Linked DNA regions of Homo sapiens: region 1 is linked to region 2. A link means that fine-mapping ties the variant in region 2 to the expression of a gene that starts in the linked region. Tissue or cell type: skeletal muscle. Region 2 holds a variant in brackets; the other region holds the start of a gene. All regions are shown on one strand. Distances are between the middles of the regions.

What was found. PIP is the estimated chance that this variant, and not a neighbour inherited with it, causes the effect.
Region 1: it holds the start of CERCAM, and the variant in region 2 is fine-mapped to the expression of CERCAM in skeletal muscle (GTEx, PIP 0.95).

The regions. Positions count from the first base shown.
Region 1 is chr9:128,415,929-128,423,928 of GRCh38, reverse strand. CERCAM (cerebral endothelial cell adhesion molecule) reads right to left here and starts at 3,072. Exons shown (of 13, transcript NM_016174.5): 1 at 2,855-3,072; 2 at 951-1,061; 3 at 666-783. The coding sequence starts at 3,051. RefSeq lists an enhancer at 2,337-2,526 and a silencer at 2,787-3,686.
Region 2 is chr9:128,263,079-128,271,303 of GRCh38, reverse strand. GOLGA2 (golgin A2) reads left to right here. Exons shown (of 27, transcript NM_001366244.2): 4 at 2,780-2,884; 5 at 3,144-3,187; 6 at 3,307-3,370; 7 at 3,787-3,846; 8 at 4,030-4,110; 9 at 4,979-5,017; 10 at 5,284-5,334; 11 at 5,423-5,516; 12 at 5,613-5,719; 13 at 8,212-8,225. Among named protein-coding and RNA genes, the nearest start is that of GOLGA2, 8.8 kb to the left of the region's middle. The variant T/G (reference allele first, on the strand shown) is at 3,401.

The DNA of each region.
Region 1 (8,000 bases), 150 kb before region 2:
TGAGTTACTGATCTAAGACCTTTATCTGGGATCTGGCTTAGAAAATGGATCCAAACACCTACTCTGAGCTCTAGTTCAGAGATCCAGGCTCAATTTATACCCTGGGCTCTAGCCCAGAAATCGAGGCTCAGTAAAGTGTATACAACGGGATCTATCTGAGGGGTCCAGGCTTAGTACCTAGTCTGAGCTTTTAACATAGGGATCCAATCTGAACATCTGGTCTGGGCTCTGGCCCAGATAGCCTGCCGAAGGATCCAGCCTTCGGGTGGGTCAGTCACATTCAGATTTCTTTTTCTTTTTTTTTTTTTTTTGAGACTGAGTTTCACTCTTGTCACCCAGGCTGGAATGCAGTGGCATGATTTCAGCTCAGTGCAACCTCTACCTCCCAGGTTCATGCCATTCTCATGCCTCAGCCTCCCAAGCAGCTGGAATTACAGGCGCCTGCGACCACGCCCAGCTAATTATTGTATTTTTAGTAGAGATGGGGTATCACCATGTTGGCCAGGCTGGTCTCGAACTTCTGACCTCAGGTGATCCACCTGCCTTGGCCTCCCAAAGTGCTAGGATTATAGGCGTGAGCCACTGCACCCAGCCTATACCCAGATTTCTATCAGGGACGGATACTACCGCCTTTCAGAAGCCCGATTCTAGCCAGACTTCCTCACCAGGATATAGTCGGCCCCCCAGTTCCTGGCAAAGGTGAGGGCTTCCTGCTTCAGCTCCATCAGAAACTGGTGCCTTTCTTTGGTCCAGTGCTTGGGACCCTCTTCATCTGGGTAGAACCTGAGGGGATAGAGGTGAGATGTTCCCATGGGGTACATGCCCCTCCCTCTCTGCAGGGCAGTGGACAGAGCCCTGGCTTGGAGGCTGTGGCTCTGGGCTGTCCCTTTTCCTCTCTGGGCTGCAGCTGTTCTCCATCTTCCCCAGCACCCTTCCCCTCAGATCACCACCTGGGCTCGCCCTCAGGCCTCCAGACCACAGCAGCATAGTCATCGCCCACAGCCGCCAGCCACTCCTGCAGCATCTCTGTGGTGTTGTCCACATTGTGGTCCGTGGCACACCTGGGGACGGGAAGAAAAAAGGCTGAGGGGGCACAGCCACAGGATTGAACCCCAAGGCAGCCTTGACCCCAAAGCACTAACACCTTTGAGGTCGAGCTCTCCTTGGAACAGTGAAGGGTAGGTGTGCTACAGCAGAGAGGCTGGAGGCAGCACAGCCAGGTCCCCACCACAGTTCTGTGACCTGCTGTGTGACCTCAGGCAAGTCCCATCTTTCTCTGGGCTTCACGTCCTCCCTCTATAACTTAAGCTGTCCTGCTTATGTCATGGACAAAGATAAGAGAAGAATAATGCATTTTTTTTGAGATGGAATCTTGCTCTGTCGCCCAGGCTGTAGTGCAGTGGTATGATCTCGACTCACTGCAACCTCCGCCTCCCGGGTTCAAGTGATTCTCCTGCCTCAGCCTCCTGAGTACCTGGGATTACAGGTGTGCACCACCATGCCCGGCTAATTTTTGTTTGTTTAGTAGAGATGGGGTTTCACCATGTTAGCCAGGCTGGTCTTGAACTCCTCACCTCAGGTGATCTGCCCACTTCGGCCTCCCAAAGTGCTGAAATTACAGGCGTGAGCCACCACACCTGGCCAACGAATGCATTTTGAAAGATGAAAAGTACCTCGACTTTAAGGATCACACCTGGTGCATTCCCTGGTTACCTTCGTTAGGTGGGCAGATACCTACCTATGTGACCTGTGGCTGTGTGACCACAGGCCAGCCCCTGTCCCTCTCTGAATGGGGACTAGACAGAAGAGCTGCTGCTTTCCTCCACCCCCAGGTTGTAATAAGGACCAAACCATGCTCTAAGCGTCCCTAAGAATGCAGATGGGTCCAAGCTCTGCTGTCATGGGGCACAGCCTCCCCTCTCCTGGGGAAGGGGCCCCCATAACAGAGGTGGGGGTTTAGCCAAGTGCCCAGGTTTTGGGTGATGCTGCCCCTTTAAGCCAATTCCCCAGAAATGAAGACTACGTGTCAAGTCTTACAGGGGTGGGAACTAACAAACTCCCAAACTGTGGTAATTGTGGGCGGCCTCCCCAGGCCAGGGCTCCACCCCCCCAGCCCAACTGTGGTGTGTTGAAGAGGGTGGCTTGTCATTTTTCTCAGTTTACCCCCAACCTCAGCCAGGGACTCCTCCCTGTTCTGGTGTCTACAGACCAGGGGTTGTGGCCTTCGATCCCAGTGCCCTGGGGGTACAGAGATGCCAGAGGGGAGAGGCTCCAGGAAGGGGGACTGCCCTTGGCTGACAGGATCCCGCCCCTCTACCAAGATCTACCAAGAGAGCTGGCCCCAGCACGGGGGCGGTGGGGGGGCCGGTCTGACTCCCCTGCACAGCCCGGAGCCCAGTGCTGATGGCACCCCCAACCTGTGCCCGGAAGCCTCCAGCGTGGTCGATCCCTGCCACGTTGGGCCCCAGTGGACTTCAGAGGTTCCTGTCTGCTCCTCTTCAAATCCAGCCAACCACAGGTCCCACTGGGGTTGAGCTGGGCCCTGAAGGCTGGGGTGAAAAGGGCTGGCTGGGCCCAACCTACACCCAGGGAAGGCCCCAAGAGGAAGGAGTAGGGGACCAGAAGGAGGGGTGGGTGTCCCGCGTCGGCCTGTGGCCTCAGAGGTCTGTCGTCTCCCAGCAGGGGGCTCGGGGTCCTCTCTGGCGGCTCGGGCTGGCAGGGCCGTCTGTGAGGGGAGGGGCCTGTCTAGGTGGTGTCTGGGCAGGGAGCGAGCAGACAGGGCCGCCGGGGGCGGGGGCCATCTGCGAAGCTGGGGGTTAGGTGCCCACTCGGTGCCAATGCCCGGGTCTCTCACCAGAGGGCCATCCTGGCCCGGGGGTAGTCCAGCCGCTCCAGAGCGCCCAGGTAGTGGGGCAGCGAGTGTTCGGCATTGCGGGCCAGGATGGCAAGGACCACGGCGGGCAGCGGCGACTCCGCAACGCCCGCAGCCTCCAGCCACGGCCCCAGCAGGAGCAGCAGCTGGAGCAGCGGCGCGGCGCGGGCAGCGCGCATGGCGGGCGCTTGGGCGGCTGCAGCGGCCCCCGGAGCTCTCGGGCCGGCCGAGGGGAGGGGGCGGGGCCTGGGGCCCGGGCGGGGCCGAGGCAGACCCGGAGAGGGCGGGGCAGTGCACCCTCAGAGTGGGATCCTGCTCCCCACCCCTGTGCGTGGATGCTCAAGTTTTCTCTCCTTGGCCCGGGGCACCGGAGGGCCAGGGCCCGGGGACCCGCGCCAGCCGCGACCCTGGAGCAGCCCCGCCCGGCTGGACCCCGGAGGGGCGACGGCGGAGGGGCCGGAGGACCGGACAGGGGAGGGGTGCTAGGACGAGTGCGTCGGGGCCGGCCGGGCGTCCGAGAACAGTAGGGGCTCATGGAACCCCTGGGCGTTGAACCCCCGGAATCCGGATTCCCCGGCCCACGCAGCCGACTCTTCGACCTGAGCCGCAGACCCAGAGGGGCGGCGCCCACTCGGCCACCACCTCCCGGGCTTCCCCGGCTCCCGCCCCATCCTCCGCCCCGGGCGCCCTCTGGCGGCCCTGGCGCTAGCTCCGCAGACCAGCCGGGCCACGCGTGGGCCGGAGACCCAGCGTGGGGGGCGCAGAGGGAGTCCCCCTGAGCTGGGCGCGTCCTCCCGCGGCGGTCCGCTCCTTAAGTCCCCTGTGCGTCACCTCCTTGCGTCGGTCGCCAGCACCCGCATTGCTTCGGCCCTTTAAGAGAGCACAGCCAGGCCGGGCGTGGTAGCTCACGCCTGTAATCCCGGCACTTTGGGAGACCGAGGCGGGAGGATCACCTGAGATCAGTTCAAGACCAGCCTGGCCAAGATGGTGAAATCCCATCTGTACTAAAAATACAAAAATTAGCCGGGCGTCGTGGCGGGTGCCTGTACTCCCAGCTACTTGGGAGGCTGAGGCAGGAGAATCGCTTGAACCCGGGAGGCGGAGGTTGCAGTGAGCCGAGATCGCGCCACTGCACTACAGCCTGGATGACAGACCGAGACTCCGTCTCAAAAAGAAAAAAAAAAAAAGAGCACAGCCCTCACAGCCCTCTCTTGGTCTGAGTGTAGAACTAGGGGACACCACGGAGCTGCTCACTGCGACCCGACCCGTCCGTCCTCCAAAGCAGGGGATGTTGGCTCCCCTGGAGCACCGCCGGGGTCCTTAGGACCCTGCTGGGAGGGAAAGAACTCTGCAGCCTCTCGGGAGAGGAGCAGAAAAGGGAGCGGCCTGGCGGCACCACAGATGGGATCGAACTGGGTGTCTGTCACCAACCTCAGACAGGTCCCTTTCCCTCAGGAGCCTCTCGGGTAAAATCGGGCTGATAACGCCACCCATCTGGGAGGGTTTGCAGGGATTCCTCGAGAGAATGAATGCACTGGCAGCTTTTCCCGCGTGGAGGCTTACACACAGGAAGAGCTCCGCCCTGGGGCTGGGAAGACAGGACTGGAGGAGAGGGAGGCTCCCCCTTCACCCTCCCACCGCTGGGAAGATCTCCTTTCCTAGGAACAGCACGGGGTCTCCCTTCAGCCTTTTCCCAGGGTCAGGGAGGGGAGCCAGGGCTGTGCACACTATCTCCACTGCAAGGGGAGGGCTGAAGGTCCATAGAGGAAGGAACTTACCTAGTGCAGGGGCAGCACGTGCGCACTGAACCCTGGAGTCCTGATCTCTAGCCTAGCTCAAAGCCTCCACCAGGATCGGGTGGCAGCTTCCATTTGAGGCCATTTCTAGGCCAGCGGCCCTGCAATGAGAAGCATTCTGGAGAGATGCCAGATTTCTTCTCCCTTGCACGGTAGTCCCCTGCGGGAAGCCACTCCCAGCCCCAGAAGAGGGATTCCCTTTCTAAAGCAAAGCAGTGTTCCCTACTTCACCCACCCCAGAGTCATTCCACAGCCTCTGCCTGTCCTATTGGTCCAAGGGTGCTATGGTCAGAATGTCCGTGACCCTCAAAACTCACATGTTGAAAACCTAATGTTAATGTCAGGGTATTAAGAAGCGGGGCCGGCACGGCGCGGTGGCTCGCGCTTGTAATCCCAGCACTTTGGGAGGCGGAGGCGGGCGGATCACGAGGTCAGGAGATCAAGACCATCCTGGCTAACACGGCGAAACCCTGTCTCTACTAAAAAATAGAAAAAAATAGCCGGGCGTGGTGGCGGGCGCCTGTAGTCCCAGCTACTCAGGAGGCTGAGGCAGGAGAATGGCGTGAACCCAGGAGGCGGAGCTTGTAGCGAGCCGAGATCGCGCCACTGCACTCCAGCCTGGGCGACGGAGCGAGACTTCTGTCTCAAAAAAAAAAAAACAAAAAACAAAAAACAAAAAAAAAAACAGGCGGGGCCTTTGGGAGTTGATTGGGTGGGCTGCCCCACCTGAATGCGGCTAGTGCCCTTATAAAAGAGGCCTGGGGGCCGGATGCGGTGGCTCACGCCTGTAATCCCAACACTTTGGGAGGCTGAGGGGGGTGGATCATGAGGTCAAGAGATCAAGACCATCCTGGCCAACATAGTGAAACCCCATCTTTACTAAAAATACAAAAATCAGCTGGGTGTGGTGTCGCGTGCCTGTAGTCCCAGCTACTCAGGAGGCTGAGGCAAGAGAATCGCTTGAACCCAGGAGGCAGAGGTTGCAGTGAGCCAAGATCATGCCACTGTACTCTAGCCTGGCAACAGAGCGAGACTCCGTCTCAAAAAGAAAAAAGAGGCCTGGGGAGCTTGTCAACCCCTTCTGCCACATGAAGACACAGCTAGAAGGCCCCAGGTATGAGGAACGGGCCCTTACCAGACACCAAATCTGCTGACGCCTTGACCTTGGACCTCCCAACCCCCCAGAACTATTAGCAATAAATTTCTTTTTTTTTTTTGGCCAGGGGTTGGGGGGTGGTTCAAGCAATTCTCCTGCTTCAGTCTCCTGAGTAGCTGGGATTACAGCCACACACCACTATGCTTGGCTAATTTTTTGTATTTTTAGTAGAGATGGGTTTTCACTACGTTGGTCAGGCTGGTCTCGAATTCCTGACCTCAGGTGATCCAGCTGCCTCAGCCTCCCAAAATGCTGGGATTACAGGTGTGAGCCACTGCACCCGGCTGATAAATTTCTGTTGTTTATACATTATGCAGTCTAAGATATGTTGTTATAGCAGCCCAAACGGACTAAGACAGGGGGCTTCCTGATTCTTCCCTGGCCTCAAGTCCTCCTCTTCCCCCAAGTCCTCCCACCCTCCCCAGGAGTCCAGCCTGTTACTAACTTTCTTGCCTCAGAGTTTTCCCATCACACCTGCCTGGAAAACCCAATAGCCATCTTGTTTTGGGGCAGGTTGGGGCAACTGCAAACTCAGGGTCTCTACCCTCACTTGGGCTCTCACCCAGCCCAAGAATCCTGTTTCCCTGTGTCCCCTGCCCACTCCCCTCAGGGCATTTCAAATGCTTCTAGTCATTGAGGCACGGTGGCTCATGCCTGTAATCCCAGGACTTCGGGAGGCTGAGGTGGGCAGATCACTTGAGGCCAGGAGTTCGAGACCAGCCTAGGAAACACAGTGAAACCCTGTCTCTATTAAAAATACAAAAAAAGGCCGGGGCAGTGGCTCACACCTGTAATCCCAGCACTTTGGGAGGCTGAGGCAAGTGGATCACCTGAGGTCGGCAGCTCAAGACCAGCCTGACCAACATGAAGAAACCCCGTCTGTACTAAAAACACAAAATTAGCTGGGCATGGTGGCGTGTGTCTGTAATCCCAGCTACTCAGGAGGCTGAGGCAGGAGAATCACTTGAACCCAGGGGGGCAGAGGTTGCAGTGAGCCGAGATCGCGCCATTGCATTCCAGCCTGGGCAACAAAGGCGAAACTCCGTCTCAAAAAAAAAAAAATAGTAATAATACAAAAAAAAATTAGCCAGGTGTGGTGGCACATGCCTGTAGCCCCAGCCACTTGGGATTCTGAGGCAGAAGAATCACTTGAACCTAGGAGGTGGGAGTTGCAGTGACCTGAGATCACGCCACTGCACTACAGCCTGGGTGACAGAGTGAGATTCTGTCTCAACAAAACAAAACAAAACAAAACAAAACAAAGCCTCCAGTCTTCTCAAGCCCCCATTCCACCGCCCCTCTCCCCCAGCAAAGATCTCTCTACTACTTTTTGGAGAAAATAGAAGCCATTACCTGGGAACTCTCATTTCTAGCCTCCAAACCTTCCACCTCTGCCCTCAGCCAGCCTCAGGAGGCACACCCCTCCTCAACAGAACGGCCCCTGTGAAACCGCCTTTGCAAATTTGTAACTCAGGAAATTATGACAGCGGAACAAATCAGACCTAACTGATTCTGTCTTGCTTCTAACCCTTAAGCTGTCCTTGTTCACTCCTGGGCGTAGGCTGAACTAACTTTGGGAAGGAATTCAGTTCATGGTTTGACTCTGAAACAAAATTTATAACAGCCCTTTCCCAAAAAGACCCTTCTTCTTGCCTGGGGTCCAGTCTGCCTTTGCAGGACTGGCAAAGTAGCTATAAGATTAGAAATTACAATTTAGGGGTCATGCAGCCTTTGGGTCCTCCCCAAATTGCTCCTGGGGTAACATCACTATTGTAAAACCTAAAGTCAGTGCTTGAGATATTCTGCAGACCCTGCACCCGATGGATCAGCTGACACCAGCCAGACCAGTAATCTGGCCCAACCAGTTCTACCATCGCACCCAGGAACAGAAGACATTAAGAATACCTAACTTCCACCTCCTATGATTCCATCTCCAATCTGACCAATCAGCATTTTCCACTTTCCAAGCCCCTACCTGCCAAATTATATTTAAGAACTCTGATCCCCACATGACTGGGGAGAACCGATTTAAGTAATAATAAAACTCCGGTCTCCCGCACAGCCGGCTCTGTGTGAATTACTCTTTCTCCTTTGTAATTCCCCTGTCTTTTTTTTTTTTTTTTTTTTTTTTGAGACGGAGTCTCGCTCTGTCACCCAGGCTGGAGTGCAGTGGCGT
Region 2 (8,225 bases):
TTGATCAGGTCTGTCCAGGTGCTGTGACTCACCTTGCCAGCTCAGAGGAGACGCTGAGTGGTACGGCTGGGGAGCACAGGCTTAGAGGTGACCTGCAGCCAAAAGCATTTGGCTTTTGCTCTGCCAATGGTCCAGTGGATTAGGGGGTCTTCAGCCTGTTTCCTAATGCTCTGAGATTCTGTGCCAGCCCAGGTCCCTCTATTCTGGAAACAAAGGCCTAGATCCCCGTATTTCCTTCTTGCTGTTTTGTTTTTGTTTTTGAGAAAGAGTCTTGCTCTTTCTCCTGGAGTGCAGTGGTGTGATCTTGGCTCACTGCAACCTCCCCCTCCCGGGTTCAAGTGATTTTCATGCCTCAGCCTCCCAAGTAGCTGGGATTACAGATGTTGCACCATCACGCCCGGCCATTTTTTTTGTATTTTTAATAGAGATGGGGTCTTGCCATGTTGCTCAGGCTGGTTTCGAACTCCTGGCCTCAAGTGATTCACCTGCCTTGGCCTCCCAAAGTGCTGAGATTACATGTGTGAGCCACCATGCCCAGCCCCTTGCTGTTTTTATACCTTCTCTATATCCGTAACTGTTTCCAATGTAGGTTTTGTTTTTTTTTAATTTCTCATTTTTATTACCATGTAAGTTTTCTACTCCAGGAATGCAGGCCTGTGATCGTAGTATCCTGAGCGGAGCTGATAACATTTCCAGAAGTAGGGAATAATGGAGAGAGAAAAAATATCTTAATGGGATGGGACATTTTGAGGAGAGTAGGCTTTTTTAAAAACTCCATCTTGGCTACAAGACTTAAAATAATGAAATAACTTGGTTGCTCACAAAATAATCATGCTATGTGTGTCAGAAAGTCCTCAGAAAAATGCTTTTTCAGCCAAGTGCAGTAGCTCATGCCTGTAATCCCAGCACTTTGGGAGACTGAGGAGGGTGGATCACCTGAGGTCAGGAGTTCGAGAGCAGCCTGGCCAACATGGTGAAACCCCATCTCTACTAAAAATACAAAAATTAGCTGGGCGTGGTAGCGTGCACCTATAATCCCAGCTGCTTGGGAGGCTGAAGCAGGAGAATCTCGAACTCAGGAGGCGGAGGTTGCAGTGAGTGGAGATCTCGCCACTACACTCCAGCCTGGGCGACAGAGTGAGACTCCCATCTCAAAAAAAAAAAAAAAAAAAAATTCCCTTCCTCTGAGCATTCTTGTGTCTAATCCTAGAGATCAGTGGGAACCGAAGATGCCAGGAGGGCCCTAAAGCCTAGCAGGGTCCATTGCTAGGAGTGCCAGCCTTCCCTCAAGGCTAATGCCTGGCCAGCAACTGAACCCTTGCTCTGACCTATTAGATTCAGTTGTAGGCATTGTCAAGGAAACACCAGGTTCCATGGTCACAGTAAACTTGCAAAGATGCAAAGGCAGCTTGGCTCATCTTCAGTTCCACCAGCCTCTGCAGCACTTGCTCTAAGGAGGGAAGCAGATTTGGGTTTTCAGAAGCCAGGGCTGAAGGGTCCAGTGAGCGCGCAGTCCTTTCCCTGGAGAGAGGTGTAGTCACTTCTCCCAGACCCAGCTTCCGTGGCCAGGCCCTGGCTCCCTGGTGTTTTTCTCTTGTCCAGCTTAGCTGGTCAGCCAGCTTTTTCCACTGTCTGCCCATCTGGCTTGTCAGATATTAGAAGATCTCTAGAACCAGAGGCTTGGGCGAAGAGTAAGGTCAGAGCCTGGAGAGAGGCTGGGTGGGGCTCTGATCAAGCAGGTAGGTCCAGTTGGGGGCAAGGGAGAGGCTCCACATGACCCCAAGTTCTGAATCCTAGGATTGTCCTCAGGTACTATTCCCAGGAAAGAGGCCCTACAACTTCCAAGTTGCCAAGAGCCACAGGGAAGATGTCTTACCTCTGTTTTCTTGGGTGGTTTCTTGGCTGGGTAGATGTTTTTGGAGGTAAGAGGTCGGGGTGGGGGTGTTGGCCATGGTTTATCCTCTTTTTACCTCCAGAGAGTTGGAGAGAGTCTTCTAGTTGGGCAGCTTTTTTTTTTTCCCCCTGAAAAGGCCTGAATCAGAAACACAGCCAGTAGGCCAAGTGCAATGGCTCACACCTGTAATCTCAACATTTTGGGAGACCAAGGTGGATCACTTGAGCCCAGGACTTTGAGACCAGCCTGGGCAAGATGGCAAGACCATGTTTCTATAGAAATTAGCTGAGCATGGTAGTGTGCACCTATAATCTCAGCTACTAGGGAGGCTGAGGTGGGAGCATTGCTTGAGCCCAGGAGGTGGAAGCTGCAGTGAACTATGATTGTGCCACTGCAGGGGAGAAGGGAAGGGAGGAAAGGAGGAGACAGGCAGATAGCTACATTGTGCATTGCCCAGACAACTACTTCCTCATCACCATCCTCTGCCCAGTAGGGGCCCAGTGAGGGTCACTCTGCAGCACAGACTGGCCTTCTGGAAGAACAGTGCCTTTCTCCTCCCTGACTTTGGCACACCTTCCTCCTGCCTGCTGTGGCTGCCACAGGTCAGAGCCTGCTGCTGTCTTTTGCTGAGCTCCAGGGAGAGCGAGGTCCTCGTGTTCATGAAGGAGGCCGTGCAGCCCCTGCTTTGAGCTTTGGCCATCTGAAATGCTGCCTAGCAGCCCAAGGCCTGGGCAACCAATCCACACCCCTGAGTGGCTCCTAGCATGTGTGACTGTCACTCTGACTGCAGCAACACCTGTCCTACCTGTTCCACACCCTTGTGTTCATAGTACTGAGGCACCTCTCCCGCATGGCCCCCTAACCCCCTGCTCTGTTCTGTGACAGACACCCAAGGACAATGCTGCTACTCTACAACCATCTGATGACACCGTGTTACCTGGCGGTGTCCCTTCCCCTGGTGCCAGTCTCACTAGCATGGCGGCATCTCAGGTTCGTGCCTCCTCCCCCTCTGCCCACTGCCCTCCTGTACCTATTATGCATTATCTTCTCCTTTCACAGGCAGCTTGTTCCCTAGGGTCAAGGGCCCTTCCTGGGGACCGGGCCGGGGGAAGGCTCAGACTGGGCTTTTTTCCTTGAGGCCTGGGGAGATTGAAGATTGTTAGAATGAGTTTGGGAGCTTGACTCACCCCATCCTGGGTGATTCTTACCAGAAATTGAATGACCATCTCACACGTTTCTTCCCAAACAGAATCATGATGCTGACAATGTCCCTAATCTCATGGATGAAACCAAGTGAGTGTCTCCTGTTGGGGCAGCAGTCTCTAGGCTGAGAGAGTCAGGGAGGCCACTGCCCATGACCTTCTTTCCCATTGAGCCACCTGCACCCCTGACCCCTGTGTCTCCATCCCTAGGACTTTCTCATCAACCGAGAGCCTGCGACAACTCTCCCAACAGCTCAATGGTCTTGTTTGTGAGGTACCTCAGGAACTGAGGCCGAGAGCGGGG[T/G]GGGGGGAAGGGAACTATGATAGAAACTGAAGCAGGGATTCACAAGAGAGAGGGAAGATCCTGGGACCAGCCAATGTGCTGGGCAATGTTAAGGAAGTCGCCTTTTCCCTGAGCCTTCTCCCTTGAAGTTGTGCACATGAAGGAGTTGGACCCCATGACTGGTTGCATCATTGTATCCTGCTGCAGAAGCACTGGATGAGAGCTGCTCGGGAGGAAAGGATGGTGGGGAAATAAGAACCATGAGAGAAGTTGGCACAAAGGGGTTACGGGACAGAGGGTCCAAGTTAGAAAAGAAAATGTTGCCAATTGCTGGGGAAGAAACGAAGTTAGAGGGCTTAGACACTGAGGGGACAGAACATCTCCATGTGCACTCTCGTCTCTTATAGTCTGCGACATGTGTCAATGGGGAGGGCCCTGCATCGTCTGCTAACCTGAAGGATCTGGAGGTAAGAGGCCCTGGGCCGTGGCCCAGTGACCCTGCAGGCCAGCCCTCCAACCTCCTCCCACAGCGGGGGCTGGGTGCCCCTCTGCCAGCTGAGACAGCCCACACACCCCCCAACCCTAATGATTGCTCTCTCTACCTCTCCCCCCAATCCTCCTCCAACTCCTCCTCTCTGCATGCGCCTCAGAGCCGGTACCAACAGCTAGCGGTAGCCCTGGACTCCAGCTATGTAACAAACAAACAACTCAATATCACGATAGAGAAATTGGTAAGAGTCCAGTGGGGTCCCCTGATTCCATGCTGCTAATCCTGGGCTCCAGTTTCCCCTTGGGACCCTGAAGAAAGGGGCAGGGGGCCCCTGGTGCCAAGGGCGAATGGGGAGCTGGGGGGCCCAGGCCTCAGCTGGAGGGACCCCAGAGCACGGAGCATGCAGCATGGCTCTTCTGTTGCTGCCCTCTTTGCCTACTCTCTCTTCTCTAGACACCCCTGCTCGAGTCCTTGCCACACACGCCCTGGGGTTGTTGCCTCTTGGGGAAGCGCTAGCCTGACTGGTTGTCAGGAGCCCTGTATTTCTGCCCTGACTCAGTCCTTAATTTGCTCTTTGATTTGGGACAAGCCACCTCTCCTCCTTGGGCTTGCATTTCCTGAGGAGGTAGAGTTAGAGAGTATCAAAGGTCTCTTAGCTCTGAGAGTCCAAGATTTAAAGGCCCATTAGAATGTAAACCTCAGGGCCAAGGGCTCCTGTCTGTCTTTTTCTGTCTGGTATCCCTGCTATTAAGAACCGTACCTGGCCTGTGTGTGCTCAGCAAATGTTTGTTGAATGATTACACCTTTCTAAATCACAAACTGGCAGAGGGTGGGCTTTTCTCACACTCCATCTCTAGAGGTTTATGTTACTGTCCTTTCAAGAGAATCGAGATTCAGACTTTCAGTTCTGTGGCTGTGGGCAAAAACCAACAAAGACACAAATCCCCTTTCCTTGAGAGCCTGAGGAGAGTTTACCAGTTCGTGTTCCCATTGGGTCTGAGAACTTTGCCTTTAAAATCCATTCCTGGCCCCTGCCTACCCGTTCCTGGTCTGGGGAATAGAGTTGAGGGGGCCACCCTCAGTCACCTTCCTTTGACTCTTCCCCACAGAAACAACAGAACCAAGAAATTACGGATCAGTTGGAAGAAGTAACGTGATTTCTTTGTTTGCTCACAACATGACTGCTGGGTTTGGGGGGCATTCAAATGTAGAGGCCTCAGTCTCGTCTCACCCACTCCCAGCCTGGGGAAGAAGGCTCACCCCCCCAGATTCCACCCCATCCCCACAGGGTCCCTGATAACCTGGTCCCATGGGTGGGCCTGTCCTGGGACATTGGTGGCATTCTGGGGGCATGTCCCTTGCTGTGCCGTCTCTGCCTCCCCCTCGTAAGAGCTCTGTCTTCCTCTTCCTATAGGAAAAGAAAGAATGCCACCAAAAGCAGGGAGCCCTAAGGGAGCAGTTACAGGTGAGTGGAGGGTGTGAAGTTCCGTCCTGTCCTCTGGAGAATGTTTCTTTCCTTCTTTTTCAGCACTTGCTTGGGTTTCCTCCCAAAGGTTCACATTCAGACCATAGGGATCCTCGTATCAGAGAAAGCTGAGTTACAGACAGCCCTGGCTCACACTCAGCATGCTGCCAGGCAGAAAGAAGGTGGGAATCTGGGCACCCCATCATCCTTCAACCTGGCACTTTGACAGGCCTTTAGGGGGAGTCCTTTGGGCCCCATCTCAACCTCTCTCATTCCAGGAGAGTCTGAAGATCTGGCCAGCCGCCTGCAGTATTCCCGGCGGCGTGTGGGAGAGTTGGAGCGGGCTCTCTCTGCTGTCTCCACGCAGCAGAAGAAGGCAGACAGGGTGAGTCCAACTGCCTGCCCCGTCCCCTGGCATACTGGCTTCCCAGATGGAGGAGTGAGCCTAAAGGTCCCTTCTGCAGGGTTGACTGTCCTGCCTAGAAGGCAGCATGGGCCATTTATCACTGCTTTTGTGTGTGGTTGCTAGAGGCATCCTGGGGCTGAGTCAGCTGCTGTGGGTGAGTTTGGGGGCACTGTGGGGAGTGAACACTGGACGCAGAGCTCGGAGGCCAAGTGCCCGCTGTGCCGTTACCTGGCTGTGGCCTTGGTCAAGTCCTAGGTGGGGGAATATGGTACTTGTACTGTGAAGGTACAGAAGAGTATCTTTAGTATGTTACCATTTGTGTAGAGAGAGGGAACGTGTGTGTGTATGTGTACCTATGTACTATGACAATATACATAAAACGTGTCTGCATGGATTCATAACAAACTCAGGAGAGAGGAACAGCACGGCTGGAAGATATTTCCCTTCTGCCCTTTCGGAGTTTTGGACTATCTGAATATATCATCCTTTCAAAAACTGAACAAAAGATAATTTCCCCCTTCCTATTTGTGCCCCCACCCTCGGGGAACAAATGAGCTTAGAGAGTCAGATATACCTGGGTGTTCAAATCCGAGCTCTGTCTAAGTGATCTTAGGCAAGCACTTAACCTCTAATATTCCGTGTTGTCCATCTACAAAATAGAGGTAATAATAGTAACTGTCTCATGTGGTGGTTATGAGGATTAAATGGGATTGTTAGCATGGTGCCTGGTGAAGCATTCAATAAAGGTTCAAACAGTGGTAGTAATAATGATAATAACAATAGCAATATTATCTGATCTCTCTGGGCCTCTGTTAGCCAGCTGTAAATTCGATCTTGGCCAGGTGTGGTGGCTCATGCCTGTAATCCCAGCACTTTGGGAGGCCGAGGCAGGTGGGTCAACTGAGGTCAGGAGTTCGAGACCAGCCTGACCAACATAGCAAAACCCTGTGTCTACTAAAAATGCAAAAAATTAGCCAGGTGTGGTGGCGTGCCCCTGTAATTGCAGCTACTTGGGAGGCTGAGGCAGGAGAATTGCTTGAACCCGGGGGCGGAAGTTGCGGTGAGCTGAGATCGTGCCACTGCCCTCCAGCCTGGGTGACAGAGGGAGACTCTGTCTGAAAATAAATAAATAAATAAATAAATAAATAAATAATAACAAAAATTAGCCAGGCATGATGGCGCATGCCTGTAATCCTAGGTACTCAGGAGCCTGAGGCAGGAGAATCACATGAACCCGGGAGGCAGAGGTTGCAGTGAGCCAAGATGGCGCCACTGCACTCCAGCCTGGGTGACAGATGGAGACTCCATCTCAAATAAATACATATATACATACATACGTACATACATAAATTCGCTCTCTCTCCCTGTTCCTTCCACCCTTACCAAGTCCTTTTTTTTTGAGACGGAGTCTCACTCTGTTGCCCAGGCTGGAGTGCAGTGGCACCATCTCGGCTCACTGCAAGCTCTGTCTCCCGGGTTCATGCCATTCTCCTGCCTCAGCCTCCCGAGTAGCTGGGACTACAGGCACCTGCCACCACGCCTGGCTAATTTTTTGTATTTTTTTTTTTTTTAGTAGAGATGGGGTTTCACCGTGTTAGCCAGGATGGTCTCGATCCCCTGATCTCGTAATCCGTCCCCCTCGGCCTCCCAAAGTGCCAGGATTACAGGCGTGAGCCACCGCACCCGGCCACCCTTACCAAGTTTTTTTAAAAACAAATGAGACCAGCCGGGTGCCGTAATCCCAACACTTTGGGAAGTTGAGGCGGGCGGATCACTTGAGGTCAGGAGTCAAGACCAGCCTGGCCAACATGTTGAAACCCCCTCTCTATTAAAAATAAAAAAATTAGGCCAGGCATGGTGGCTCACGCCTGTAATCCCAGCACTTTGGGAGGCTGAGACGGGCGGATCACAAGGTCAGGAGATCGAGACCATCCTTGCTAACACAGTGAAACCTCGTCTCTACTAAAAATACAAAAAAATTAGCCGGGTGTGGTGGCGGGGGCCTGTAGTCCCAGCTACTTAGGAGGCTGAAGCAGGAGAATGGCATGAACCCGGGAGGCGGAGCTTGCAGTGAGCCGAAATTGCGCCACTGCACTCCAGCCTGGGCAACAGAGACTCCATCTCAGAAAAAACAAAACAAAACAAATTAGCCGGACATGGTGGTGCACGCCTATAGTCCCAGCTACTCAGGAGGCTGAGGCAGGAGAGTCACTTGGACCAGGGAGGCAGAGGTTGTGAGCTGAGATCTCACCACTGCACTTCAGCCTGGGTGACAGAGGGAGACTCTGTCTCAAAAACAACAACAGCAACAACAAAATGAGACCATGGGCTTGGAAATGCCTTGAAAACATGTCAAGTGTGATTGAGAGTGAGGAAGTGTTACTGTGGAGTACTTACTGTAGCTGTTGTTACTGGTTGGCCAGCTGCTCCTCTGCCTGCTATATCCTGACTTAACCTTTCTGTATTTACAGTACAACAAGGAGTT